4 linked regions of the Homo sapiens genome follow. The protein of the gene in region 2 interacts with the protein of the main gene of each other region in a biochemical or structural test. Each region holds a gene or a part of one and is shown on either strand. Other genes may lie near its edges.

Region 1 (7,023 bases), about 19 Mb from region 2:
GTTTCACCATGTTGGCCAGGCTTGTCTCAAACTCCTGGCCTCAAGTGATCTGCACATTTCAGCCTCCCAAAGTGTTGGGATTACAGGCATGAGCCACTGCGCCCAGTCTGTTTTTGGCTTTTTTGAGACAGGTTCTCATTCTGTCACCCAGGCTAGAGTGTAGAGGTGTGATCATGGCTCACTGCAGCCTCAGCCTCCTGGGCTCTTGTGATCCTCCTGCCTTAGCCTCCCAAAGTGTTGGGATTACGGGCATGAGCCACTGCACCCAGCCAAATCTGCTTCTCTTGAGCTTTGCCCATGTGTCAGGCATGTAGGACTTTATAGTCCTTATCTCTCATCATAAACTCTGGGTACAGGCTGTTGCTACTCCCATTTTACAGATGTACAGGAACATTCTCAGACTCTTTAAGCTAGGAAGAGGCAAAGTCTGAGGCTAGACCTGCTAACTTGGGGCCAGATGGCCTCATTCATGCTTCACCCCAGCTCCTCGGACAGGACCTGGCCCACAGTGGGGAACAGGGGAGGTTGGTCAGTCCTGGACAATCAGTGAAGACCTTTAGCAGATTTCACCAACCAAAAGTCATGCAGGAAAGTGTGCGCGCGCGCGTGTGTGTGGTATGTGTGTGTGTGTGTGGTGTGTGTGTGTGTGTCTTACTCTGTTGCCCAGGCTGGAGTGCAGTGGCACAATCTTGGCTCACTGCAACCTCTGCCTCCCAGGTTCAAGTGATTCTCCTGGCTCAGCCTCCCAGTGTGCCACCACACCCAGTGAGGGAAAGCTATTTTTACATGGCTCAAGCAGTGTAAATGACAATGATGTTTACTTACTTCCCCCCACCACCACCACCATTTAATTCTCCTCTTGAAAACTAAAAGCTGGCTGGGTATGGTGCATCACTCCTATAATCCCAGCACTCCAGCACTTTGGGAGGATCACTTGAACTCAGGAGTTTGAGGCCAGCCTGGACAACATAGTGAGACGCCATCACTATAAGAAATAAAAAAATAGCTGAGTGTGGTGGCATATGCCTGTAGTCCCAGCTACTTGGGAGGCTGAGGTGGGAGGATTGCTAGAGCCCGGGAAGTCAAGGCTGCAGTGAACCGTGATTGCACCTCTGCACTCCAGCCTGGGTGACTCCCCACAGATGAATATGCTGACAGTGGTTTCAGCTGCTCGGTGGTGATTCAGACCTGGACGCGTGGCTTCAGTAGCCCTGGGGCCACACTGCCTGCCCGCAGCCTCCTGTCTTGCTCTATGCTATTCCTTCCAAGTCCCTGCCATCTAGTCTTTAGTCCTCTCTGCCTGGGAGGCCTCTTCCACTCCTCAGCCTTATGTCATCTTATCCATCCTTTAAGGCCCTTGCTCCATGCCTCCCCTCCCAGGGCAGGGCTTGGATGTAGGAGAATGTGGAGAACTGGCGCACGCCAGCCTTGCTCCCCAGCAGAGGAGCTCTGTTTACTGGAGTGCGTACTTAGGCCACGGCTTGAAGATATGGGGCTGGGGTGTAGGGCTGTCAAGATTGTTCCTGGGGCCAGGTGCAGTAGTTCACTCCTGTAATCCCAACACTTTGGGAGGCCGAGGCCGGCAGTTCACCTGAGGTCAGGAGTTCAAGACCAGGCTGGCCAACATGGTGAAACCCCATCTCTACTAAAAATACAAAAAAAAAAAAATTAGTCGGGCAGGGTAGCGGGTACCTGTAATCCCAGCTACTTAGGAGGCTGAGGTGGGAGAATTGCATGAACCAGGGAGGCAGAGGTTGCAGTGAGCTGAGATCGCGCCACTGCACTCCAGCCTGGGCGACAGAGCGAGACTCCGTCTTAAAAAAAAAAAAAAAAAAAAAAAGATTGTTCTTGGGCTCTCTGTGAAGCTTGGATTTCTTTGGGTTGGGTGTGCCATGGCAAGTGCCATGGCAGACCTGGGTGAGGGAAAAGGGAGTACAATGGGAAGGGCTTCCCCAGCTCTGGAGATAGGTAGGGTTGGGGAGAGGCCAAAAGACTCTTTGCTGAGTCATCTCTCAGGCTCCTGGGGCCATCAGAGTGTCCAGGCCCCAAAGGTGGTTTTCGGGTGGTTCTAGGGGCAAGGGGCTAGGGCATGGTGCTGGCCCTGCCTGGTGATCACCTGTTGAGTGACCAGCTCAGGTCCCCAGGGTCCAGCCATTGAGCTGACTACTGTTTCTACCCTGGGAAGATTGAGCTGGCCAGGACTTGGCATCAAGGCAGTTATTTGGACTTCTAGTACTCACAGTGTATTCTGGTTGGGTTGTAACTTACCTCTGGTACAACTCTACTTGTATCTTCAGAAAAGATCAAGAGATATTTGCAAAAACATAATATGATAAAGGACTGTCTAAAGGACAAAGAACACTTAAAACTCTATAATAAGAAAACAACAATAAATAACACCGTGCATCTCTTAGAATGACCAAAATCCAGAACACTGCCAAATGCTGCTGAGGACGTAGAGCAACAGGAACTCTCGCTCTTTCCTGGTGGGAATGCAAAATGGTGCAGCCACCTTGGAAGACAAGTTAGGCGGTTTCTTTCATTTATTTATTCATAAAATCTTTTTAACAAAGAAATTGAGTCTCTCTCTTGCCCAAAATGGAGTGCAGAAGCGTGATCACAGCTCATTGCATTCTCAAACTCCTGGGCCTAAGAAGTCCACCCTTCTTAGCCTCTGAAGTAGCTGAGACTACAGGCACATGCCACCATGCCAGGCCAATATATTTATTTTGTTATTATTTTTTGAGATGGAATCTTGCTCTGTCACCCAGGCTGGAGTGTAGTGGCGCAACCTCAGTTCACTGCAATCTCTGCCTCCCGGGTTTAAGCAATTCTCCTACCTCAGCCTCCCAAGTAGCTGGACTACAGGCGTGCACCACTACGCTCTGCTAATTTTTTTGTATTTTTAGTAGAGACAGGGTTTTACCACGTTGGCCAGGCTGGTCTTGAACTCCTGACCTCAAGTGATCTACCCAGCTTAGCCTCCCAAAGTGCTGGGATTACAGGTGTGAGCCACTGAGCCTGGCCCAGGCTAATATATTTAATTTTTTTTTTTTTTTTTTTTTGTAGAGATGGGGTCTTGTTATGTTTCACAAACTGGTCTTGAACTCCCGGCCTCAAGTGATCCTCCCTCCCTGGCCTCCCACAGTGCTCAGATTACAGACATGAGTCACTGCTCCTGGCCCAGTTTGGCAGTTTTGTTTTGTTTTTTTTTTGAGACTCAGTCTCGCTCTTTCGTCCAGGCCAGACTGCAGTGGCGCAATCTCCACTCACTGCAAGCTCCGCTTCCCAGGTTCACACCATTCTCCTGCCTCAGCCTCCTGAGTAGCTGGGACTACAGGCGCCCACCACCACGTCCAGCTAATTTTTTTTTGTATTTTTAGTAGAGACGGGGTTTCACTGTGTTAGCCAGGATGGTCTCGATCTCCTGACCTCGTGATCCACCTGCCTTGGCCTCCCAAAGTGCTGGGATTACAGGCGTGAGCCACCGCGCCCGGCCGGCAGTTTCTTACAAAACTAAACATATGTCTTACCATTGGATCCAGCAATTACATTCCTTGGTATTTAGCCAAATGAATTGAAAACTTGTATCCACACAGATGCTTATAACAGCTTTATTCATTAATTGCTAAGGTTTGAAAGCAACCAAGATGTCCTTCAGTGGGTTAATGGATAAATAAATTGTGGTATATCTAGACAAATGACATTCAACACTAAGAAGAAATGAGTCTGGGTGCAGTGGCTCACACCTGTAATCCTAGTACTTTGGGAGGCCGAGACAGGCAGATCTCTTGAGCCCAGGAGTTTGAGACCAACCTGGACAACATAGCAAAACCCAGTCTCTATAAAAATACAAAAAAATTAGCTGGGGGTGGTGGTGCCTATCTGTAGTCTCAGCTACTTGGGAGGCTGAGGTGGGAGGATTGCTTGAGCCTGTGAAGTCAAGGTTGCAATGAGCCAAGATCACGCCACCATCCAGTGGGCAACAGAGCAAGACCCTGTCAAAAATAAATAAGTAAGTATGAAGTGGGGGAAAAACAAGTAACGGCTGGGCACAGTGGCTCACGCTTATAAACCCTGCATTTTGGGAGGCCGAGGCAGGCAGATCACTTGAGGTCAGGAGTTCAAGACCAGCCTGGCCAACATGGTGAAACCGCATGTCTACTAAAGATACAAAAATTAGCTGGGCATTGAGGCGGGTGCCTGTAATCCCAGCTACTTGGGAGGCTGAAGCAGGAGAATTGCTTGAACCCAGGAGGCGGAGGTTGCGGTGAGCCAAGATCGTGCCATTGCATTCTAGCCTGGGCAACAGACTCTGAAAAAATAATAATAATAAAAAGAACAAATAGCTTCTAACGACAAATTTATTTCTCACTTATTGAGGCTGGGAAGTCTGAAGATCAAGGTGCCAACAGATTCAGTGGCAACTGAGGGCCGGCTTCATGGTTTATAGATGGTGCCTTTTCACTGTGTCTTTATATGATGGAAAGGGCAAGGCAGTTCTCAGGGGCCTCTTTGATAAGGACACCAATCCCATCATGACCTAATCACTTCCCAATGGTCCCAACTCCTAATACCATCACATTGGTGATTAGGTTTCAACATAAGATTTTTGGGGAGATACATTCAGACATAGCAGCTACATATTGCATGATTCCAGCTATCATGTCTGATAACCACACAAAACCTATAGAATGTGCAACACCAAGTATGAGCCCTAACATAAACTAGGGAAGCTGAGTGGTAATGATGTGTTAAGGTAAAAGGTTCATTGGTGGTAACAAATTTGCCCCTCTGGTGAGGGATGCTGATAGTGGGAAAAGCTGTGTGTGTTCAGGGGCAGGGGGTATTTAGGAATTCTCTGTCCTTTCCTCTCAGTTTTGCTGTATACCTAAAGGTGTTCTAAAAAGTAAAGTCTATTTTTTAAAAAAGTATGAAGAGACCAGGACATCAATCTCAAGCCCCTTCTCAGTTTAGCAGATAGCTTGCTCTAGAAATACTTTTGGGTGGCTGGGTTGTCCTGAAGGTGGCAGGGCTTCAGTTGATACTTGAATCCCTTGAAATAAATTGATTTTTCAGATAAACAATTAAAACATTCCTGTCTTGGCCATAGGTTTATGAACCATGGTGTGTTCATTTTGATCTCTCTTTCCTTCCAGGACAACCCTCCATATGATAAGGGAGCCTTCAGAATCGAAATCAACTTTCCAGCAGAGTACCCATTCAAACCACCGAAGATCACATTTAAAACAAAGATCTATCACCCAAACATCGACGAAAAGGGGCAGGTCTGTCTGCCAGTAATTAGTGCCGAAAACTGGAAGCCAGCAACCAAAACCGACCAAGGTAAGACATGTGCCTGTGTCTTCCTCGGAGGGGGTCTTTGGGGGTGCTGCTCTGGGGTGGGGGCTTCTGGTACCAGATCAGACAGAATCCAGAGAATCTTTCAGGTACACGAAAAATGTAGCTGAGGTCCTGTCAGACCTTGTGGGAATGGCTCATCTCAGCTGAACTTTTGACCTGTATAGGGTTTGAGGAGGCCTTTCCAGTGCTCAGCCCTGGGCTGCCATCCACAGTGGGAACACACATGGACAGACAAGCCCAGTGGCTTGCTGCTGGTGCAGAGAGGTGCAGGCACTGGTCCCTGGAAGGGATGAAGGACTGTGGGGCTGCCTACAAGGGGAAGGGAGAGTGGGATTTAAGGTGGCCTCATGCAGTAGTTAGTGCCTGAACTCAGACTTGAAGGAGGAAAGGAGGTTGGAGAGGGCCTTCCAGGCTATAGGAAGGGCATGGGCTAGAGCCTAGTTGCTCGGGTGATGTGAGGGGAGGGACAGAGGCAGATGTAAGGGCAGTATTCCCAGATGAAGGCACGTAGTTGGCTTTAGTGGGCCTGGGATTCCCTGGAGTTGGATGTGGCTGTGCGTGGTGCACATGTCTGTGTGTGGCTGTGTGAACATAAACATGCTCATTCTTCTGGGAAGAATATTTGAGTCAGTATTGTGGTTGTCCTCCCTTTTGTCCCCTAGAAGTGACTAGTTTGTTATGGACTGTGTCTGGTTTTCATTTAATTCTAGACTTTCTTTTGAAGTCCTAATCTCATATTTTGATGGCTTCCTTTTAAGTACCTAAACCAGTATAAAGTCTGTTTAGATTAGAGTGGATGAAGCTGGCACTTGAGAGGCTGCAAGTGGAGGGTTTCTTTTAGGGGTGCTGCTCTAGGGTAGGGGCTCATGGGTCCTTCCTGATGCCAGATCAGACGGAGTCCAGAGAACTCCTACCTTACCAGGTGCACGCAAAGTATGGCTGAGGTGCCACCAGTCCCTGTGGGAATAACTCAGCTGAACTTTTGACCTGCACAGGGATTGAGGAGGTCCCTTGTTTTAGTGATTGAAAAAAGCCTTGGAAGGTGGAGTTCAAAGCCTTGCGCAAGAAAAATCAAGCCTCACTTGTTGGAAGTAATCACCATGAAAGGTGCCCATTAGACTCCCACACTGAGTAGAAGAAAGGAGTGGGTGCTAAACATTCAGTCAGGGCAGAACAGTCTCTAGTGGGCTTGGTCCTTGTTTGTGTACAAGCTGATGTTTATAAAAGCTTGACACAGTTCTTCTCAGTGCCTGGTTTTTTCTTTTCTTTTCTTTTCTTTTTTGGAAACGGAGTCTCGCTCTGTCACCAGGCTGGAGTGCAGTGGCGCGATCTCTGCTCACTGCAACCTCCGCCTCCCGAGTTCGCGCCATTCTCCTGCCTCAGCCTTCCGAGTAGCTGGGACTACAGGCACCCGCCACCACGCCCGGCTAATTTTTTGTATTTTTAGTAGAGACGGGGTTTCACCATGTTAGCCAGGATGGTCTCGATCTCCTGACCTCGTGATCCGCCCGCCTCGGCCTCCCAAAGTGCTGGGATTACAGGCGTAAGCCACCGCACCCAGCCGATTTTTTCTTTTCTTTTCTTTTTTTTTTTTTTTTTTTTTTTTTTTTGAGACGGAGTCACCCAGGCTGGAGTGCAGTGATGCCATCCCAGATCACT
Region 2 (7,023 bases):
GGTCAGGCACAGTCGCTCACACCTGTAATCCCAGCACTTTGGGAGGCCAAGGCAGCAGGATCACTTTAGCCCACGAATTCAAGACCAGGCTGGGCAACACAGCAACATCTCATCTCTAGAAATAAAAAAATTAGCCAGTTGTGGTAGCACATGCCTGTGGTCCCAGCTACTAAGGAGGCTGAGGCAGGAGAATGGCTTGAGCACAGGCGGTTGAGGCTGCAGTGCACCATGATCGTACCACTGCACTCCAGCCTAGGTGACAGAGCAAAACCTTGTTATCAAAAAAAAAAAAAAAAAAAAAAAGGCCAGGCACGGTGGCTCGGCCGGGCGTGGTGGCTCATGTCTGTAATCCCAGCACTTTGGGAAGTCGAGGCAGGCAGATCATCTGAGGTCAGGAGTTCGAGACCAGCCTGGCCAACATGGCGAAACTCTGTCTCTTCTAAAAATACAAACAATTAACCGGGTGTGGTGGGTGGCGCATGCCTATAATCCCAGCTACTAGAGAGGCTGAGGCAGGAGAATCGCTGGAACCTGGCAGGCAGAGGTTGCAGTGAGCTGGGATCGCGCCACTGCACTCTACCCTGGGTGAAAGAGCGAGACTCCATCTTAAAAACAAACAAAAAAGGGATCTAGGGTCTATGCAGTGTATTTAAGAACTTATTGAAACTGGAATACACTACTATAATTAAAAGAATGGCAGAGAAAAGTAAATATGATGTCCTTTAAGCTGGATCCTCTAACTTAGAGGAAGACTATGTATTATAAAATTAGCTAAATAAGAGCCACAATTATTAAAGTGAAAATCAAAACTGTTTCAAGGTACATTATCGTGTTTAAATTTGATCTGGGTCTTTCTTTTGACTGTGGCCATGGCACTACTAACCTAAAGAACCCTTCAGGCTCCCTTCACGGTAGAGTCCTTTCCTTCGTCCCTGCCATACCTGGAACATGCTCCTCCTCCTATCACTCTCAAGTCCTCCCCACCCTTCAAGACCCAGCTTAAATCCCTACTTCTTGACTGAAGCTTTTCCTGACTCTTCCACCCTGAGTCATTTTCCTCTCCTTCAGGCACTCTTAACACATCAATTATGAGTATCTCTTTACATACCTGACCTCCCTCCTTCCCCCTCAACTCAAAGCTCCCACAGAGCAGGGACCTGGTCTTTCTATGCCAAGTGCAAATTAGGCTCTTGGTACTTGAACAAGCAAACAAAAACTATTTCTATAAATAGAAGAAATACGGGACAAATACAGATTCATTCTTTTTTTTTTAGACAGTCTCGCTCTGTTGCCCAGGCTGAAGGGCAGTGGCACAATCTCCACACTGCAACCTCCACCTCCCGGGTTCCAGCTATTCTCTCACCTCAGCCTCCCAAGTAGCAGGGATTACAGGTGTGCACTACCATACCAAGCTAATTTTTTGTATTTTTAGTAGAGACGGGGTTTCACCATGTTGGCCAGGCTGGTCTTTAACTCCTGACCTCAAGTGATCTGCCTGCCTCGGCCTCCCATGGTGCTGAGATTACAGGCGTGAGCCACTGCATCCGACCAAGATTCATTCCTTTTTTTCTTTTAGACAGAGTCTAGCTTTGTCCCCCCAGGCCGGAGGGCACTGGTGCAATCTTGGCTCACTGCAACCTCTGTCTCCCAGGTTCAAGTGATTCTCCCGCCTCAGCCTCCCAAGTAGCTGGGACTACAGGCATGCGCCACCATGCCTGGCTATTTTTTGTATTTTTAGTAGAGATGGGGTTTCCCCACGTTGCCCAGGCTGGTCTTGCACTTCTGGCCTCACACGATCCACGCGTCCTGGCCTCCCAAAGTACTGGGATTATAGGCGTGAGCCACCGAGCCCGGCCAGATTCATTCTTTACTACAAAATTCCTAACAAAGAACAAAAATGTATAGGAGGGATATTACTGCAATCTAGAGTACCAAATAAGAAGGGATATAGCAGGGAAAATGATTAAATATTAGTGTAAAATGTGCTCAATACAAAAGTTTTCCAGCTTTTGTTGCAGAGAGTAAGTACAGGGGTTGAGTCCAGTTAGTTTAAACGGGCAGGAACTGTTCACTGTCAACCCAGAACAGGTTGACAGTGGCACATAACGGGTTCATGTCACACCCCTGCCAAGGCAGAAGCCTATCATGTGATTTATAAAGCTTGGGGACCTTTAAGCTTTGATAAAAACGCTGTACCACCAAAGAACTGTTAAGGAAGCAATGGCTTCATCTCAAGAGTAGACAGATTACACTTTCAAAACACTGACGGGGCCGGGCGTGGTGGCTCACGCCTGTAATCCCAGCACTTTGGGAGGCCGAGCCGGGTGGATCACTCGAGGTCAGGAGTTAAAGAGACCAGACTGGCCAACATGGTGAAACCCTGTTTCTACTAAAAATACAAAAATTAGCTGGGCATGCTGGTGCATACCTGCAGTCTCAGCTGCTCAGGAGGCTGAGGCAGGAGAATAGCTTGAACCTGGGAGGCAGAGGTTGCAGTGCACCGAGATCATGCCACTGCACTCCAGCCGAGGCAACAGAGCAAGACTCTGTCTCAAACAAACCAAACCAAACCAAACCAAACCAAACCAAACCAAACCAAACCAAACCAAAATACTGATGGATCTGTAGTTTTAGGTAGATGCTAACATCTTCTGGGCCAAGGCTGGGTCTAAGATGATGAAGATTCCCCATCATCAGGAATAAGATTACCAGAGGTAATAGAGAAAATAAAACCTCACATATTTGATTTTTCAGCAACTCCTTAATACAACCAAGGAAGGAGACAGTGTAAAATAAAATAAATACAAAGGTACAGGAGGGCATGCAGAATCAATATGGACTTAAAAGAGGAAGTCTTCAGAATCCGACTAGGGCACAGCCATAATCATTCTTATTTACTTAGAGCTATGTATATAATTACTCATTTAAGGTCAGACAAGATTTATTAAAATACAACCGTTGCTAAATCTAGATTCTTACTTTCATCTTTAACAAAAATTGTCTTTATAAAAATGATAAATCCATTTTTTTCTTTACTTGCTAAGTTCTTTTCCCATATAAATCCTTTTTTTTTTTTTAAGTTATGGCACTCAGACTTCTCCTCAGTGTCTATAATAAAAGTGTGTGGCCAGGGGCAGTGGCTCACACCTGTAAGCTCAGTGTTTTGGAAGGGCAAGGCAGGAGGATTGCTTGAGTCCAGGAGTTCAAGACAAGCCTGGACAACACAGCAAGACCCAATCTCTACAAAAAATTAAAAAATTAGCAGCTAGATGCGGTGGCTCACACCTGTAATCCCAGCACTTTGGGGGCCGAGATGGGTGATCATGAGGTCAGGAGCTCGAGACCAGCCTGGCCAACATAGTGAAACCCCATTTCTACTAAAAATACAAAAAATTAGCCAGGTGTGGTGGCGGGTACCTGTAATCCCAGCTACTCGGGAAGCTGAGGCAGGAGAATTGTTTGAACCCAGAAGGTGGAGACTGCAGTAAGCCGAGATCGTGCCACTGCACTCCAGCTGGGTGACAGTGTGAGACTCCGCCTCCAAAAAAAAAAAATTAGCTAGGTGTGGTAGTGCACGTCTGTGGTCCCAGCTACTTAGAGGCTGAGGTAGGAGGACTGCTTGATCCCAGGTCAAGGCTGCAGTGAGCTATGACTGTGCCACTGCGCTCCAGCCTGGGCACTTGAGTGAGACCCTGTCTCTAACAAAAAAATACATAAAAATAAAAAATAAACAGTGTTTCTCTTTTTGAGATAGGGTCTCACTCTCTCACCTAGGCTGGAGTGCAGTGGCAAAATCTTGACTCACTGTCACCTCTGCCTCCCGGGCTCAAGGGATCTTCCCACCTCAGCCTCCCAAGTAGCTGGGACCACAGGCATAAGCCACCATGCCTGGCTAATTTTTTGTAGAGACAGGGTTTCGCCATGTTGCCCAGGCTGGTCTTGAACTCCTAGGCTCAAGCGATCTGCCCGCCTCAGCCACCCAAAGTCTTGGGTTTACAGGTGTGACCCACCTCACCTGGCCAAGAGTGTCTTTTTTTTTGAGACAGAGTTTTGCTCTTTTTGTCCAGGATGGAGTGCAATGGCAGGATCTCGGCTCACTGCAACCTCTGCCTCCCAGGTTCAAGTGATTCTCCTGCCTCAGCCTCCCATGTAGCTGGGATTACAGGTGCGTGCTACCACGCCTGGCTAATTTTGTATTTTTAGTAGAGATGGGGTTTCACTGTGTTGGCCAGGATGGTCTGGATCTCCTGACCTCATGATCCCCCCGCCTCAGCCTCCCAAAGTGCTGGGATTACAGGCATGAGCCACCGCGCCCCGCCTAAGAGTATGTTTCTTTTTTTTGTTGTTGTTGAGATGGAGTCTCACTCTGTCACCCAGGCTGGAGTGCAATGGCGCGATCTCAGCTCACTGCAACCTCCGCCTCCTGGGTTCACGCCATTCTCCTGCCTCAGCCTCTCAAGTAGCTGGGACTACAGGCGCCCGCCATCGCACCCAGCTAATTTTTTGTATTTTTAGTGGAGACGGGGTTTCACCTTGTTAGCCAGGATGGTCTCGATCTCTGGACCTTGTGATCTGCCCGCCTTGGCCTCCCAAAGTGCTGGGATTACAGGTGTAAGCCACCACGCCTGGCCTAAGAGTGTGTTTCTTAAAGGTAAAGACTTGAGGTCGGACATGGTGGCTCACACCTATAATCCCGGCACTTTGGGAGGCCAAGGGGGGTGGTTTTTTTGAGGCCAGGAGTTTGAATGGGTCATGTCTGTAATCCCAGCGGTTTGAGAGGCCAAGGCGAATGGATCACCTGAGGTCAGGAGTTTGAGACCAGCCTGGCCAACATGGTGAAACCCTGTCTCTCATAAAAATACAAAAAATGAGCCGGGTGAGGTGGCCCACACCTGTAGTCCCAGCTACTTGGGAGGCTGACGCAGGAGAATCACTTGAACTCCAGCCTGAGCGACAGAGACTCTGTCTTTAAAAAAAAAAAAAAAAAAAAGGTAAAGACCTGCCCGATCTCACTCATTGTTTTATCCTGGTGCCTACCAGGATGCTCAGGATATATTCATTGGATAAATAAAAGATAGGACTTAGAAAATACTTTCATAAGTTTTTGTTATAGGATTTCAATATCCTACTTCATCTGACATTCAAAATATATTATGAAACAAAACAGGTATCCCACTGAAAGCCTAATATGATGTCTCAAGCATTTCACTCTAAGAGAAGACAATATAGATCGCCTTTGTCTTCTGTGGTCCTTTTAAGAAGTACATTCTCTCATATCCAGAGACACATATACACTGACTTAAATATAGAGAAAAAAAAATCAGGGTTATATAAAATCATTAAAAATCATTAACTATTTTCAAAACAGAGCCCCAAGAAAGTAAAATTTTCTCTGGGTATAACTCCTTGTGAAAATGCAAGGCCGAGAAACTGGCAAGCATGTAATCAAAGACCCCACCCAAACACATTTGAAACCCTGCATATGTTTTTCTGTGATGGGTTCACGGCATCTATATTAAACATTATGGTAGGTGCTGATCTTCCTTGGCTGTAGTGTGAAGAGATAAACAGTGTCAAAGCTCAAAGAAGCCAAGGGCAATACATGACCAGTATAAGCCATGACTGCTTTCCAACAGAAAATATTTGATTCGTGCTTTTCAAGTTGAAAACATCTGAGCAAGTTTAAGATAAGATCTAAAGCTCAACTATGGGTTAGTCTTACATTGCACAATAAAGTAGTTATTAACCACATGTGACTACTGAGCACTTGAAATGTGGCTAGTCTGAATCCAGATGTGCTGTAAGTGTAAAATACACAGAATTTCAAAGATAGTACAAAGACAGAATGTAAAATATCTCATTTTTTTTTTACATCAATTACATGTTGAAGTAAAACTATTTTGACTATATAAGGTTAAATAAAATACATTAATTTCACCTTTTTATTTTCTTTTTACTTTATGAATGTGGATACTAGAAAATTTCAGGCCAGCCACAGTGGCTCACGCCTATAATCGCAACATTTTGGAAGGCCAAAGTGGGAGGATCACTTGAAGCCAGTTCGAGACCAGCCTGGGCAACAAAGCGAGATCCCGTCTCTGAAAAAAACAAAAAAAAAAAAAAAGGAAAAAGAAAATTTAAAATTATATACGTGTTTGTACTGGCTTACATTCAGATTGGACAGTGCTGGGTTAGACAAAACCAAGGAAGAGAAGAGGTGAAGAATATTCTAGGCAAAAAAGACTAGGCTATTTAAGGGCTCTAAAATAGAGCATGGACACTTAAGAATGGAAAAGCAGGCCGGGCATGGTGGCTTATGCTTGTAATCCCAACACTTTGGGAGGCAGAGGCACGCGGATCACCCGAGGTCAGGAGTTCGAGGCCAGCCTGGCCAACACGGTAAAACTGTGTCTCTACTAAAAATACAAAAATTAGCTGGGTGTGGTGGCAGGTGCCTGTAATCCCAGCTATTGAGGAGGCTGAGGCAGGAGAATCACTTGAACTCGGGAGGCGGAGGTTGCAGTGAGCTGAGATCACGCCACTGCACTCCAACCTGGGCGACTCCATCTCAGAATAAGGAAAAAAAATGGAAAACTGGCCGGGGCCATGGCTGCTTTGGCCACCGTGGTCAGTTAAAAAAAAAAAAAAGCATCCAGGTAAACTAACAGAGTGAGCAGGAGTGACTCAAGACAAAGTTGTAAAGGCAGGTGAGTGATCTGAAAAATAAGTTCCTATAATTCCATTTCTAGAAACTTAAAGTTTCTTTCCTCCATTTCTGGCCTCAGTAACAAATCATTTTAGTTCCCGGATGAAAAAGTAACCTCAACTGTTCCTGGTGTGATCAACATTCTTGTCCCTTCTACTGTAAGGACAGGAAATCAGTTCATCAAAGACTATAATCAGATCACTATGTGCTGACCACTACATGTAATAAAATATGTGGAGATTTAAATGAAATTTCTTTAGTGCAATTAATTATTTATTTAGATGTTGGCAATGATTTCCTTTTTATTATGTTTGGGC
Region 3 (7,295 bases), on a different chromosome or scaffold from region 2:
CAGGTTGGTCTCCAACTCCTGACCTCAGGTGATCCACTCACCTCGGCCTTCCAAATTGCTGGGATTATAGGCGTGAGCCACCACGCCTGGCTGTTGTTTACTTTTTGACTATTCTGTCCCATTAGATGTTACTGTCATGAGGTAGGAACCTGGTCAGTGTAGTTTACACCTAGACCTTGAGTCCTAGGATTGTGTCTAGCTCATAGCAGTTGCTCAGTAAATGTTTGTTAAATAAAGCAATAGTTAGACAGTTGGGTGTGCAAGCGTTCATTCAGGCTTGAGGATCAGCCAGGCACTAAAATGGTGAGAGAAGGAGACAAACAGCCAAGTTTGTTGAGGGCGTATGAAGAGAAGGGTTGTAGTAATGGACTACTCTCTAAGCTCAGAAGAGAAGGAAGAGGAGAACAGGAAGGAAATGACAGATAGTAAAAAAGTGGTAAACAGGGCTGGACGCGGTGGCTCATACCTCTAATCCCAGCACTTTGGGAGGCCGAGGTGGGCAGATCACGAGGTCAGGAGATTGAGACCATCCTTGCTAACATGGTGAAACCCCATCTCTACCAATAATACAAAAAAAAAGAGCCAGGCATGGTGGCACGCGCCTATAGTCCCAGCTACTCGGGAGGCTGAGGCAGGAGAATCACTTGAACCCGGGAGGCGGAGGCTGCAGTGAGCCGAGATCGCACCACTGCACTCCAGCCTGGTTGACAGAGCGAGACTCTGTTTTAAAAAGAAAAGAAAAAAAAAAGTGGTACACAGAATGGGGTCTTGTTGGTGTGGAAGAGCTGTGTGGCGTGAACGCTAAAGCCAGTAAGCTGGAAGGATAAGGAATGGTGGTCAGGGTGCGTGGCTTGAAACCAAGTACTGGGGTGTGGTGGAATTTTGGGTGGCGAGACTGTCCCACGGGAACACGGAGAGGCCAGCTGGTGGGAAGGGAAGGAGAGGAAGTCAAGTGGTGAGAGGCAGGGGTACCGGACGGGTCATTCATGTGGGTAATTAGGTCCCCAAGGTGGAGGGCTGGAGTAGAATGAAGAGAAGGGCTCTGAGGCAGGAGGAAAAGTCCATGATGAATGGGTCTGCAGGTCACAGCACCAAAGGGGAGTGGCAAGTGCTGCAGCTGGATGGCATTAACCTCAAAAGCAAGAGGGCCCAGGTGCAGTGGCTCACGCGTGTAATCCCAGCACTCTGGGAGGCCAAGGCGGGAGGATCGCTTGAGACCAGTTTGAGACCAGCCTAACCAACAAAGCGAGACCCACTCCTTGGACTTGGTCTGTCATACCAATGGCACCCAGTCACCCGGGTCAGGAGAGTCACCTGTGGTGCTCCCTGCTCTTTCCTATATCCCATAGATCACCAAGGCCTACATATTCTTTGTTTTTTCGTTTTTTGTTTTTTTTGAGACGGAGTTTCACTCTTGTTGCCCAGGCTGGAGTGCAATGGCACAATCTCAGCTCACAGCAACCTCCCCTTCCCGGATTCAAGCAATTCTCCTGCTTCGGCCTCCCAAGTAGCTGGGATTACAGGCATGCACCATCACGCCCGGCTAATTTCGCCTTTTTTTTTTTTTTTTTTTTTGAGACAGAGTCTTGCTCTGTCGCCCAGGCTGGAGTGCAGTGGTGCGATCTCGGCTCACTGCAACCTCTGCCTTCTGGGTTCAAGCGATTCTCTTGCCTCAGCCTCCCAAGCAGCTGGGACTACTATTAGCTGGCCACCACGCCCAGCTAATTTTTGTATTTTTAGTAGAGACGGGGTTTCACTATGTTGGTGAGGCTGGTCTTGACCTCCTGACCTCGTGATCCACCTGCCTTGGCCTCCCAAAGTGCTGGGATTATAGGAGTGAACCACTGCCCTAGGCCCTAATTTTGTATTTTTAATAGAGACGGGGTTTCTCCATGTTGGTCAGGCTGGCCTCGAACTCCTGACCTCAGGTGATCTGCCCGCCTCGGCCTCCCAAAGTGCGGGGATTACAGACGTGAGCCACCTCGCCTGGCCACCAAGGCCTAAATATTTTATGGACACTCCTTAATCCAAGTCTTAGTTACTGCCACAATCTCCATAAGGGTCTCCAGGCTTTAAAAATTTTTATTAAAATTTTAAAATGTTTATTAAAAAAATATTTTGGGCTGGGCATAGTGGCTCATGCCTGCAATTCCATCACTTTAGGAGGCTGAGGCGGGTGGATCACTTGAGCCCAGGAGTTCAAGACCAGCCTGGCCAACATGGTGAAACTCTGTCTCTACCGAAAATACAAAAATTCTCCAGCCATGGTGGCACAGGCCTGTAATCCCTGCCACTCAGGAGGCTGAGGCACGAGAATCACTTGAACCAGGGAGGCAGAGGTGCAGTGACCTGAGATTGTGCCACTGTACTCCAGCCTGGGCGACAGAGGGAGACTGTTTCAAAACAAAACAAAACACACTTTTTTGTAGCGATAGGGTCTTGCTCTGTCACCCAGGCTAGTCTCTAGCTCCTGGCCTCAAGTGATCCTCCTGCGTGGAGTTTCCAAAGAGCTGGGATTACAGATGAGAGCCACCACAGCCTGCAGGGCACTGGTCTTGACCCTCCCTCCCTCATCAATTCTCTGCAGCCACAGCAAAACATTCAAAATGCAAGTCTGCTATTTTTCTACTCCTAGTTAAAACTTTTCAGGGGCCTCCCACTGTTTAAGGATTAGGTTCAATTTCTAAACCTTTATCCAGCCCTGATCTTTCACCAGATTTGGAAATTATTACAAAAAATAAATCTTTTTTTTTTTTTTTTTTACAAAAAATAAATCTTAAGAAACTAGGAATAGGCCGGGCACAGTGGCCCTTGCCTATAATCCTAGCATTTTGGGAGGCTGAGGCAGGCGGATTGCCTGAGTTCAGGAGTTCGAGACCAGCCTGGGCAACATGGTAAAACCCCATCTCTACTAAAATACGAAAGAAAATTAGCCTGGCCTGGAGGCGTGCGCCTGTAGTCCCAGCTACTCAGGAGTCTGAGGCAGGAGAATTGCTTTAACTCGGGAACCTGAGAGGCAGAGGTTGCAGTGGGCCAAGATCACGCCACTGCACTCCAGCCTGGGCGACAGAACAAGGCTGTCTCAAAAAATAAATAAATAAATAAATAAAATAAAAAAGAAAGAAACTAGGAATAGAAGTAAATTTCCTTGATTTGGTAAAGTGAAATATCAAAATGGTCCCTTTGGTCTATTTGATAGGGGGCAGTGGTTCACACTTGTAATGCTAACACTTTGGGAGGCCGAGTTGGAAGGACTGCTTGAACCCAGGAGTTTGAGACCAGCCTGGGCAACACAGAGAGACCTCTGGCCCCCCCCTCCTTTTTTTTTTTTTTTGTGAGACGGAGTCTCTCTCTGTCGGCCATGCTGGAGTGCAGTGGCACCATCTCGGCTCACTGCAATCTCTGCCTCCTAGGTTCAAGCAATTCTCCTTTCTCAGCCTCCCTGGTAGCTGGGAGTACAGGCGCCTGCCACCAGGCTGGGCTAATTTTTGTATTTTTAGTAGAGACCAGGTTTCACCATGTTGGCCAGGATGGTCTCGAACTCGTGACCTCAGGTGATCTGCCCACCTCGGCCTCTCAAAGTGCTGGGATTACAAGCATGAGCCACCGCGCCCCGTCAAACCCCCCGATCTCTATAAAGCAAATAAAAAAATAGCAGGGCATGGTGGTGTGTACCTGTAATCCCAGATACTAAGGAGACTCAGATGGGAGGATCCCTTAAGCCCAGGAGTTCCAAGCTGCAGTGAGCTATGATCACTGCACTCCAGCCTGGGCGACAGAGAGAATTGCCGTCCATAAATGATAATAATAACAGGGCCGGTCTCGGTGGCTCAATAATAATAGGGCCGGACGCGGTGGCTTTTTTTGTGCACTCTTCATGTAAAGTGAGTTATCATCATATATTGCCTCTATTTTGATGTTTGGTTAAAATGGGGCACACCAGTACTAACTTCGGCTTTCTAACAATTCCTACTTCGCACACCATGTGGCAGTGTTAGATGGCTTTTGGGCGCTCGCCAAGGACTAGACATCTACCACTTCTTCTGGCCTCTTCGCTCCTATATCCACTGCTTCAATCCAGAGGCTGTATTTGACCCTCTGCGACCTCTTTGTCATGGCGTCCGCGGGGCGTCTACCAGCGGAGGCTTGGGCTGGCAGCCGGGCGTCGACCTTCCCAAAATGGCGGCGGACGGGACAACTGCGCTCAAGGGGCGGGGTTCCGCCGCCGGGGGCGGGGCGGGAGGCCGAGGGGTCGGGCTAGCGGGCGGGACGCTTCCCAAGTCGGCAGTCTCAGCGCGCCTGCGCCGAGCGGCCCTGCGCGCAGTGAGGCAGTGGCGGGGGAAGGCACCGGTGGGGCCGACGGGCGGGTTGAAGGAGGGAAGCGGGCGAGCGAAGTCCCAGTGCGCGCCGCGGCAGCCCGGGCACCCTCCCCTTCCGGGCGTGAGTCGCTGTGAAAAGAGCTGAAGCGAGCGGACTCGCACCGGCAGCGAGGCGCCGCTCCCGCCGCCTCAGCCCGGCCTTCCTCGGCTCCGGCGCTCCGGTCGCGGGGCCCGGGTTCCTCGGCACACCCCGCTCCAGCCGCCCCCAGAGCCTGTCCCCAGCCCTTCGGAAGCCCCGGCGCCAGCCCGGGCCCTCGGCAGGGAGGATGACGGAGCTGCAGTCGGCACTGCTACTGCGAAGACAGCTGGCAGGTGAGCAGGCGGGCGGCGGGGCGCCGGGCCCGGCCGCGATCGCGGACAGCCGCAGCCCAGTCCCTCTTCTCCTCCCGGGCCAGCGGCCGTACTGCCGAAGGGGCCCGGGCCTGCGAGGGTGGGGACCTCGAGGCTCCGGTCCCGGCCGGGCCCAGCCGTTCTCGCCCGGCTCTTGGAGGGCACTGGGGGCGGGGACGCGACCCAGCTCCGGCCCAGGGACTGGGCCTGGCGCCCGGGGGGTCGGAGAGGAGGAGGTCCCCTCCCCCACCGTTCTGTAGGACGTTGCGGGGGAGGGGCTGTGTGCGGGTCCCCAGGCCGGGGCCGCCAGCTTGGAGGGGCGGGTCCCGGGTTCAGGTGCTGCCGGGGCCGCCGGACCTTCGGGGCCGGCTGGAGCGTCCGGACCCAGTGCGGCTGCGAGTCCCCGGCTCGGTGTCTGAGGGCGGGCGGAAGGGACCGGCCCTGGCGGGATAGGTGAGGCGCACAAAACTTCTCCCCGGGCGGCGCTGGGTCCGCGGAGTTGGGGCCGACAACAAAAGCGCTGGCCTCGGCGGCCTCCACGCGGGCGCGAGGGTGCCGGAGACCCTGGCGGAGTGCGGATCGCCGCCTCGCCTGCCTCCGCCTGGCACGGGCTCCGGCTGCGCCGCCCGGCTGGGGGAGGGTAGGAGCGGGCCGCGGGGAGAGCCGCTCGCTGGCCGGCTCCGGGCTTTGTGCTCGCCGCGATTCCGGCTGCTGCGCAGGCCTGCAAACCCCGGAGCTGCGCCCGCAGGCTCTGGCCCGGGGCGGCGGCCGGGTCGGCCTCCCCGAGGAGCCTGCGGCCCCCCTCCCCCATTGTCCCGGCCTCCGGCCGTTTGCGGCTTCCAGGTTGACTTTTTAGGGGGTTGGCTCCTACTCTGCTAGGACTGTGTGCGCGGAGCATGCGCAGTGGAGACGTCCGTGTGCGGAGTGGAAGGGGGGAGGCGGGTTGGTGGCTTCACAATGCAGCCCCACGTGCTGCCAGATTTAAAGAGAAATGAACCAGCACTTACCCCTGCTGTACAACACCCGGCGTGTGTCATTCTCAGTTCAAGCGATCTTCCCCCTACCCACTCTAAAACCAGTAGCCTCTAGCCCTCAGCAGAAGCCAAAGACTGGAGTGATGAAATCTGTTTTTGAAATACATTTACTAAGAGTTTGAGGTGTTCGTTAAATCACCTTTATGGCTTCTTAAGGAAAAGGTTGTCAGGGGTTCTTACAGATTGTATAATTGGGTTTATTATTAGACCATGAGCAAGCAGGTTTGGACAAGTATTAAAGTTCTAGATGCTCAGGGGGAGTTAGCTTGCAGTAAATGGAGAAGTTCTAATGATACTACAGGATACTCATAAAAATTATGTGCTGGAAAAGCACTGAGGCCGGGCGCGCTGGCTCACGCCTGTAATCCCAGCACTTCGGGAGGCCGAGGCTGGCGGATCACCTTAGGACAGGAGTTCAGGGCCAGCCTGGCCAAAGTGGTGAAACCCCCGTCACTACTAAAAATACAAAAAATTATTCGGGCGTGGCGGAGGGCGCCTGTAATCCCAGCTACTCAGGAGGCTGAGGCGGGAGAATTGCTTGAACGCGGGAGGCATCGTTGCAGTGAGCTGAGATCGCGCCATTGCTTTCCAGCCTGGGCAACAGAGCGAGACTCTGTTCAAAAAAAAGAAGGGCCGGGCGCGGTGGCTCACACCTGTAATCCCAGCACTTTGGGAGGCCGAGGCGGGCGGATCACGAGGTCAGGAGATCGAGACCATCCTGGCTAACACGGGGAAACCCTTTCTCTACTAAAAATCCAAAAATTAGCCGGGCGTGGTGGCGGGCGCCTGTAGTCCCAGCTAATCGGGAGGCTGAGGCAGGAGAATGGCGTGAACCCGGGAGGCGGATGTGCAGTGAGCCGAGATGGCGCCACTGCACTCCAGCCTGGGCGACAGAGCGAGACTGTGTCTCAAAAAAAAAAAAAAAGAACTTTATTGCATTTTTTTTTTTTTTTTTGAGGCAGAGTCTCACTCTATTGCCCAGGCTGGAGTGGAGTTGCGCGATCTCGGCTCACTGCAACCTCTGCCTCCTGGGTTCAAGTGATTCTCCTGCCTCAGCCTCCCGAGTAGCTGGGATTACAGGCGCGCGGCACCAAGCTTGGCTAATTTTTTGTATTTTTAGTAGAGATGGGATTTTACCGTGCTGGCTAGGCTGGTCTTGAACTCCTGACCTGGTGATCCGCCTGCCTGGGCCTCCCAAAGTATTGGGATTACAGGCGTGAGCCACCGTGCCCGTCTGCATCTTTTTTTTTTTTTTTTTTTTTTTTTTTGAGACGGAGTCTTACTCTGTTGCCCAGCTGGAGTGCAGTGGCGCAATCTCGGCTCACTGCAAGCTCCGCCTCCCGGGTTCACGCCATTCCCCTGCCTGAGCTTCCCGAGTAGCTGGGACTACAGGCGCCCGCCACCACGCCCGGCTAATTTTTTGTATTTTCAGTAGAGACGGGGTTTCACTGTGTTAGCCAGGATGGTCTTGATCTCCTGACCTCGTGATCCGCCCGTCTCAGCCTCCCAAAGTGCTGGGATTACAGACGTGAGCCACCGGGCCCGGCCTCTC
Region 4 (7,136 bases), on a different chromosome or scaffold from region 2:
TGACAGAGCAAGACGCCATCTCAAAAAAAAAATAATTAAATAAATAAATTAATTAAATAAACCTGAGACTGGGTTTAATGTTTGAGCGATATTTCCAAGGTCGTGGCAGAAACTAGATTTGAATTTAAGGTTCTTCTCTGCCATGTGATGGAAAACCTAACTCAAACTGGCTTAATTAACGAAGAAGGAATTTATTTTTACTTATTTATTTATTTTTGAGATGGAGTTTCACTCTTGTTGCCCAGGCTGGAGTGCAATGGCGTGATCTTGACTCACCACAACCTCCGCCTCCCAGGTTCAAGCGATTCTTGGGCCTCACCCTCCCGAGCAGCTGGAATTATAGGCATGTGCCACCACGCCCGGCTAATTTTGTATTTTTAGTAGAGACAGGGTTTCTCCATGTTGGTCAGGCTGGTCTGGAACTCCTGACCTCAGGTGATCCACCCTCCTCGGCCTCCCAAAGTGCTGGGATTACAGGTGTGAGCCACGGCGCCCGGCACGAAGAAGGAATTTAACCTGGTTGTGGTGGTGTGCACGTGTGGTCCCAGCTACCTGGGAGGCTGAGGTGGGAGGACTGTTTGAGCCCAGGAGTTCAAGGCCAGCCTGAGCAACAGGAACGGGGGCAGGGAGGGAGGAAAGGAAAATAAACTAAAAAGGCTGGGCGTGGTGGCTCACGCCTGTAATTCCAGTACTTTAAGAGGCCAAGGCAGGAGGATCACTTGAGGCTGAGAGATCGAGACCAGCCTGGCCAACATGGTAAAACCCCATCTCTACTAAAAATTCAAAAATTAGCTGGGTGTGACAGTGCACGCTTGTGATCCTAGCTACTTCGGAGACAGGTGGGAGGATTGCTTAAGCCTGGGAGGCAGAGGTTGCAATGAGCTGAGATTGCGCCACTGGACTCCAGCTTGGGTGACACAGAGAGACTCCATCTCAACACAAACGAACTAAGAGGCAAGAATTCATGAGCTTGCATCATTGGAACATCCAGGGGAGGTCAGGTAACAGCATGATGCAGGATCACTAATAGGATTATCAACGTTTCCCCTCTCATCAGCCGGCTCGGCTTTCCTGTGATGCCGCCTTTGTTCGGAGGCCCCGTGGTGACACCATGACCCCGTAACTCCAGCCCCAGGTCCTTCCAGCTCAGCCACCCCAGCACTGTGATCCCAGAGAAATGTCCCAGAGCTGAATCTCATTGGACGTCAGGAGTCACATGCTTGTTCCTGAACCAATCATTGCAGCCCAGGGTGGGGGCCCTGGGAACTGATGGGATGGCCCCTCCCTGCAGCCAGGGCTTGCGTCAGTCCAATTCGAACCCGTTCCCACAGAGTAGGGAGCCCCCAAGCAGGCAGGTGGAAGCCCCTGGTGTCCACCGCTCCCGGGTGCTGTGAGCCTGAGCCTCCCTGGGGGTCGGGGCCCTGTGGGACCAGCTGGAGGGGCTTGAAAATCTCCCCAACCCAGGCCGGGCGCGGTGGCTCACGCCTGTAATCCCAACACTTTGGGAGGCCGAGGCGGGCGGATCACGAAGTCAGGAGATCAAGACCATCCTGGCTAACACGGTGAAACCGCTTCTCTACTAAAAATACAAAAAATTAGCAGGGCGTGGTGGCATGCGTCTGTAGTCCCAGCTACTCAGGAGGCTGAGGCAGGAGAATCACTTGAACCCGGGAGGTGGAGGTTGCAGGGAGCCAAGATCGTGCCACTGCACTCCAGCCTGGGCGACAGAGCAAGACTCCTTCTCAAAAAAAAAAAAAAAAAAAAAAAGCGAGAGAAAGAAAACCTCCCTCACCCACACAGTGCTTCCTGGGATGTGGGTGTACGGAAGAAGAGAGATCTTGGGAGCCCTTAGAGAAGGAATCGTGGTTAATTCTAATTAGCATTAATTTACCCATGAGCTGCTGCCTGCCGGCTCCATGATGCTGGCAATATATCCACGACCTGTGGCACGGAAGAGACTGAGGCTCACAAAACCCTGGGAACCTTGGTGAAGGGGCCACAGCCAGAAGGCCCCACTAGTCCCGAGACCCTCCTTTTACTCCAGGCCCCCAGGGTGCCGGGCAGAGGGGCCTGAGGGAGGAGGCCCAGAGGCCCTTACGGGTGAGGACGCCTCGGCCTCGGCCCTGGACAGCTCTGGAAGTGACCGCTCGGCCCAGAGCTCTTTCTTGGATCCCTCCCTCCCTCTCCACTCCTGATGCTGTTTTCCTTTCCCCAGACAGGTTTGCCTGCTGGTCCTCTTCCGGGGACCAGACTCATGAAGCCGGGGCCAGGTGTTGGGGCACCTGCGGGACAGAGTGGCCCTGGTCCCAGACTGGTTTTTGTTTTTGGTTTTTTTTTTTTTTGAGACGGAGTCTCTGTCGCCCAGGCTGGAGCGCAGTGGCGCTATCTAGACTCACTGCAAGCTCCGCCTCCCGGGCTCACGCCATTCTCCTGCCTCAGCCTCCCGAGTAGCTGGGACTACGGGCGCCCGCCACCACGCCCAGATAATTTTTTGTATTTTTAGTAGAGACGGGGTTTCACCATATTAGCCACAATGGTCTCGATCTCCTGACATTGTGATCCGCCCGCCTCGGCCCCCCAAAGTGTTGGGATCACAGGCGTGAGCCACCGTGCCCGGCCTGTATGTTGATGCAGCTGTGTGTACCCAGGGCATAGCAACAATGCCACTGGCACAGTCCGAGGGCAGGGCCACCCGTCACGGGCACGACTCAGGGGAGGCTGGGCTGCCCCGTCCTCACCACGGCCAGTTCTCCCGACCAAGCTTCACAGCAAGGAGCATGTGGGTGTCTGGGCAGCCACTGAGCCAGGTCAGAAGTCAGGTGGGGTCACAGTGATGCCCGGAATCAGCTGGGGTCAAGACTCAGGTGGGCTGGGCGCGGTGGCTCATGCCTATAATCCCAGCATTTGGGAGGCCGACGCAGACGGATCCCTTTATTAGTCCAAACTGCATCCTCCCCTTCCTTTCAAAACCTAACAACACACTTGAGGTCAGGGGTTCGAGACCAGCCTGGCCAACATGGTGAAACCCCATCTCTACTTAAAATACAAAATTAGCCGGACGTGGTGGCGGGCACCTGTAATCTCAGCTACTCGGGAGGCTGAGGCGGACACTAGCTTGAACCCGGGAGGCGGAGGTTGCAGTGAGATTGTGCCACTGCACTCCAGCCTGGGCCACAGAACGAGACTCTGTCTCATTTAAAAAAAAAAAAAAAAAAAAGACTCGGGTAGGACAAAGGTCAGGCTGGGAGGAGGGCACAGCCAGGCTCGGGCTCAGCTTGGGGTGGGGGCTCCGTGGGGCTGGCGCCTCTCCCGGGTCAGGTGCTGAGCCGATGCTGGCCGGCGTAGGCCTCTTTCCCAGTTTCTCTGGGGGGCAGGAGCACCTTGCCAACCTCTGATGGCTCCAGCGCCTGCACTCGCCTCACACCACATGGTGACTTCAACGGGGACCAGGGAAGCCCTCGCCCCTCCCACCCCTCAGAGCCCTCCCCGACCTCGCCCACTTCTCAGAGCTCCCGCTGTCGGGGGAACCGAGGCAGCGCCGCGCCTGGAAGCCAGGTCTGCGGATCCCGCCTCGCTCCCGCCCCTTCCTCCCTTCCGCGTGGCCAGCGCGACCCTAGGACAGACTTCGCGCCCGTCCCCTGCACAGACGGGGAAACGGAGACGGGGACGCGGGGTCGCGCCGGATGGACCGGCCCTGCCCCTCCGGTCCCGGTCAGGACCCCGCGCCGCGCCCCGTTCACCGCCCGCGGCCCCGCCCCGCGCCGGCACGTCACAAAACAACCCCAAAGCCGGGGGACCGGGCCGGTGACGGCGCAGAGCAGCCCTGCCCGCCTCCTTGCGCACAGCGTCCGCGGTGCTGGTCGAGCAGGGGGCGACGGCGGCGGCCTCGGGGATCGGAAGAGCCCGGGGCTGCGCGCTCGAACCCTCCCTCCCGGCGGAGGCGCTCGGCGCCGTAGGCGGGACCGGGGCCGGGACTCCACCTCCCGGCGTCCCCTGCGGCCGGGCGCGCAGGCGCAAGTCGGACCTGGCCGCGGAGCGCAGGCGCAGTCGGGGCCAGGCGGTGCGCGCAGGCGCAGCGGGGGGCGGGGCGCGCGGGCCCGGCCAAGGCAAGCGCCGGTGGGGCGGCGGCGCCAGAGCTGCTGGAGCGCTCGGGGTCCCCGGGCGGCGGCGGCGGCGCAGAGGAGGAGGCAGGCGGCGGCCCCGGTGGCTCCCCCCCGGACGGTGCGCGGCCCGGCCCGTCTCGCGAACTCGCGGTGGTCGCGCGGCCCCGCGCTGCTCCGACCCCGGGCCCCTCCGCCGCCGCCATGGCTCGGCCGCTAGTGCCCAGCTCGCAGAAGGCGCTGCTGCTGGAGCTCAAGGGGCTGCAGGAAGAGCCGGTCGAGGGATTCCGCGTGACACTGGTGGACGAGGGCGATCTATACAACTGGGAGGTGGCCATCTTCGGGCCCCCCAACACCTACTACGAGGGCGGCTACTTCAAGGTGAGCGCGGCGACCCCCGCCCGGGTCCCGGAGCCCACGAGCGACCTCGGGCGCCGGGAACCAGCTCCCTGCCCCGCGGTCCTAGCGCTGTTGCTGGGCGGGCCCCGAAGCCTCCTGGCTTGGGCTCGTTTCCCTTCTATGGCCACGTTCCCCCACCCAGCTCTGCCCGGCCCCCTCCTCGGACCGTCTCGGGGACCTTCAGCCTCTGCTGCAGTCCTCGAAAATCCCCAGTTCCCTTCAAGGCATCGTCCGGTCCCCTGTTAGGCTCTTGGCCCCCGGAGGGGTGGCCGGGGGCCCTCCCTGTAGCATCTGGGCGTGGGGCTCTTGCCCACCTCCTCCTTGGCGGGGGCTGGACCCCGGCTGCCTCCCCCTCCGCCCCTGCGAGAAAGAGGGAGCGGAGCCCAGGCCGCGCCGGCCTTTCAGCTGCCCTCCCCGCCCTCCCCGGAGGAGACAAAGAGGCCCCCCCAGACCCCGTAGCTGCTATTGTTGGGGAGCTGGGCCCGTGAGCGGGGGAGCGAGGCCAGCCTGGGGGTGGCTGGCGCGGCCACTCGCTCAGTCTCCAACAAAGGCCCGGATGAGCCTTGGCAGCCAGGACCCGCCTGGAAAGCGGCCACCCTTGCCAGTAGCAGCCGGCCAGGCGCCCTGGGCTCCATCCCCTGCTTTATGTAACCTGCGCCCTCGGGAAGGCCGAAGTAGGGGCGTGCCTCCCACCTGCTCCCTGCAGCTCTCTCCAGGCCTCCCGGCTCGGGCCCGCGTCCCGGACCCCGACCTCAGAAGCTCCGGGCTCGCTCATCCCAGCTGGTCTTGGCCTTTCTCAGAGTCCACTGAACAGGTGGCTTCTTGGGACCCAAACCCCGAGTTCTGGGCCGTTTCTTCTGCCCTCTGGCGGTTTAATTCCAAGCAGTTTCTGGATGTTTTTGTTGTTGTTGGGAGCGGGGAGGCTGTTTCTGTCTCATGTGAAAAGGACTCAGGCCAAAACCAGGGCAGTTTTCTTGATCTCACGATCCAGACGTGACCTTTGACTTCTTTTAGCGTTCAGGGACCTCGTTCTTGGGGCCAGAGGGACAAAGCGAGGGGCCCTGTGTGAGCGGTGGGGAACGAGCACCCTGTCCAGGAATCTCCCCCTCCCACCGTCACTTCCTGCCAAGAGCCTGGACACGACACGACACTGCAGGGCCCGGCCCGCTCTGCCCCGGCCAGCTGCGGGCGTGGGGCCGAGGGACCGATGCCTCCCGCACGATATGTGTCTGCTCTCCGAGCTAATTAGTGTCTGAACCGCACCCGCTCAGCGGCTGTGAGGGCAGCAGCCTGGTCTGCTGGGGGCGATTCCTGAGCAGAGAGTGGGACGCCCGTGGGTTCTGCATCTGGAATCCTGCGTCCCCACACAGGGAACAGAGTTTGGGTCTCGAGGTTGCCAAATGGTTTTAGCAGCTCCTCCGCCAGCCCCTTCTGTCTGCTTGGGGGAGCAGCTGGCTGAGGAGCCGCAGCCCCACCTCGAAGCCAGGCCTGTGAGGCGGCTGCTGTTCTGGAAGGAGGGGATGGGGGTTTCTGGCTGCTGTGCCCACCAGACCGGTTGCCAGGGATTGTGGGCAGAGCTTCCTGGGCCAGCATTAGGGGATAATCCGGTTTTCCGGATTTCCCAGGGAGGGGGCCTCTAGACATCTGCCACAGGGTCAGTCCTCAGAAGCCAGTGTTGAGACGGGGGTGCTGCCACCCACGAGGACTCTCCCTTCCCGCTGTGCCTGGGAGGGAGTTGGGGGAGCGTGGAAATACAGAACCTGCTGAGTGCCCAGGGCCGCTGCTGCCCAGCCACTGCCTGCAGCTGCTGTTCCTTCAGGAGCCAAAGTGAGCCCTGGGGCAGGGGCCGCCAGAGAGAGCCCTCCACAGCCGACTTGCTGTCTGCCCTTGGCAGGGCGCTTTCCTTTTCTGAGCCTGGGTTTGCTCCGGGGAAAAGACATTCTTAGAGGTGCCCAAAATAAGAGGCTCATTGGGACTTGGTGGGGTTTGGTACAGATGAGGCCTTGGCTGTTGTCAAGGATTGCCGCCTGAAACCCAGCACCAGGCTTGGGGGGCCTGAAGTCTTGGGGAACCGCAGGACAGTTCTGAGACTGAAGTTCCAGCCTTGCTCTGTGGCCGCGGCCAAGTCACTTGCCTTACGGGGCACCAGTGAGTTCCCTGTCAAACAGAGGACACCCCCCAAGACACCCCGCGTGCCCTCCCTGTCCAGGAGGGGCCCGTCCACGATCCAAGACCCCCAAAGTGCCCTGCCTGTCCGGGAGGGGCCTCGCCCACAATCCAAGACCCCCGAGTACCCTCCCTGTCCAGACCTCGCCCACGATCCAAGACCCCCTGAGTGCCCTCCCTGTCCAGACCTCACCCACGATCCAAGACCCCCTGAGTGCCCTCCCTGTCCAGACCTCGCCCACAATCCAAGACCCCCGAGTACCCTCCCTGTCAAGGCCTCGCCCACGATCCAAGACCCCCGAGTGCCCGCCCTGTCCAGACCTCGCCCACGATCCAAGACCCCCGAGTGCCCTCCCTGTCCAGACCTCGCCCACGATCCAAGACCCCCGAGTGCCCTCCCTGTCCAGACCTCGCCCACGATCCAAGACCCCCGAGTGCCCTCCCTGTCCAGACCTCGCCCACGATCCAAGA

What was found.
Region 1: the proteins of RBX1 (region 2) and UBE2L3 form a complex in vitro, tested with the Homo sapiens proteins (13 studies listed by BioGRID, with this or other methods).
Region 3: the proteins of RBX1 (region 2) and UBE2G1 form a complex in vitro, tested with the Homo sapiens proteins (8 studies listed by BioGRID).
Region 4: the proteins of RBX1 (region 2) and CDC34 form a complex in vitro, tested with the Homo sapiens proteins (84 studies listed by BioGRID and IntAct, with this or other methods).

Annotation. Positions count from the first base shown.
Region 1 is NC_000022.11:21,605,698-21,612,720, forward strand, and holds part of UBE2L3 (ubiquitin-conjugating enzyme E2 L3), read left to right. Parts: intron 1-5,159; coding exon 5,160-5,346; intron 5,347-7,023. UniProt on the Homo sapiens protein: Ubiquitin-conjugating enzyme E2 that specifically acts with HECT-type and RBR family E3 ubiquitin-protein ligases.
Region 2 is NC_000022.11:40,954,362-40,961,384, reverse strand, and holds part of RBX1 (E3 ubiquitin-protein ligase RBX1), read right to left. Parts: intron 1-7,023. UniProt on the Homo sapiens protein: E3 ubiquitin ligase component of multiple cullin-RING-based E3 ubiquitin-protein ligase (CRLs) complexes which mediate the ubiquitination and subsequent proteasomal degradation of target proteins, including proteins involved in cell cycle progression, signal transduction, transcription and transcription-coupled nucleotide excision repair.
Region 3 is NC_000017.11:4,363,667-4,370,961, reverse strand, and holds the start of UBE2G1 (ubiquitin-conjugating enzyme E2 G1), read left to right. Parts: upstream 1-4,286; 5' UTR 4,287-4,645; coding exon 4,646-4,691; intron 4,692-7,295. UniProt on the Homo sapiens protein: Accepts ubiquitin from the E1 complex and catalyzes its covalent attachment to other proteins. In vitro catalyzes 'Lys-48'-, as well as 'Lys-63'-linked polyubiquitination. May be involved in degradation of muscle-specific proteins.
Region 4 is NC_000019.10:527,628-534,763, forward strand, and holds the start of CDC34 (ubiquitin-conjugating enzyme E2 R1), read left to right. Parts: upstream 1-4,132; 5' UTR 4,133-4,304; coding exon 4,305-4,481; intron 4,482-7,136. UniProt on the Homo sapiens protein: E2 ubiquitin-conjugating enzyme that accepts ubiquitin from an E1 ubiquitin-activating protein, and catalyzes its covalent attachment to other proteins by an E3 ubiquitin-protein ligase complex. In vitro catalyzes 'Lys-48'-linked polyubiquitination.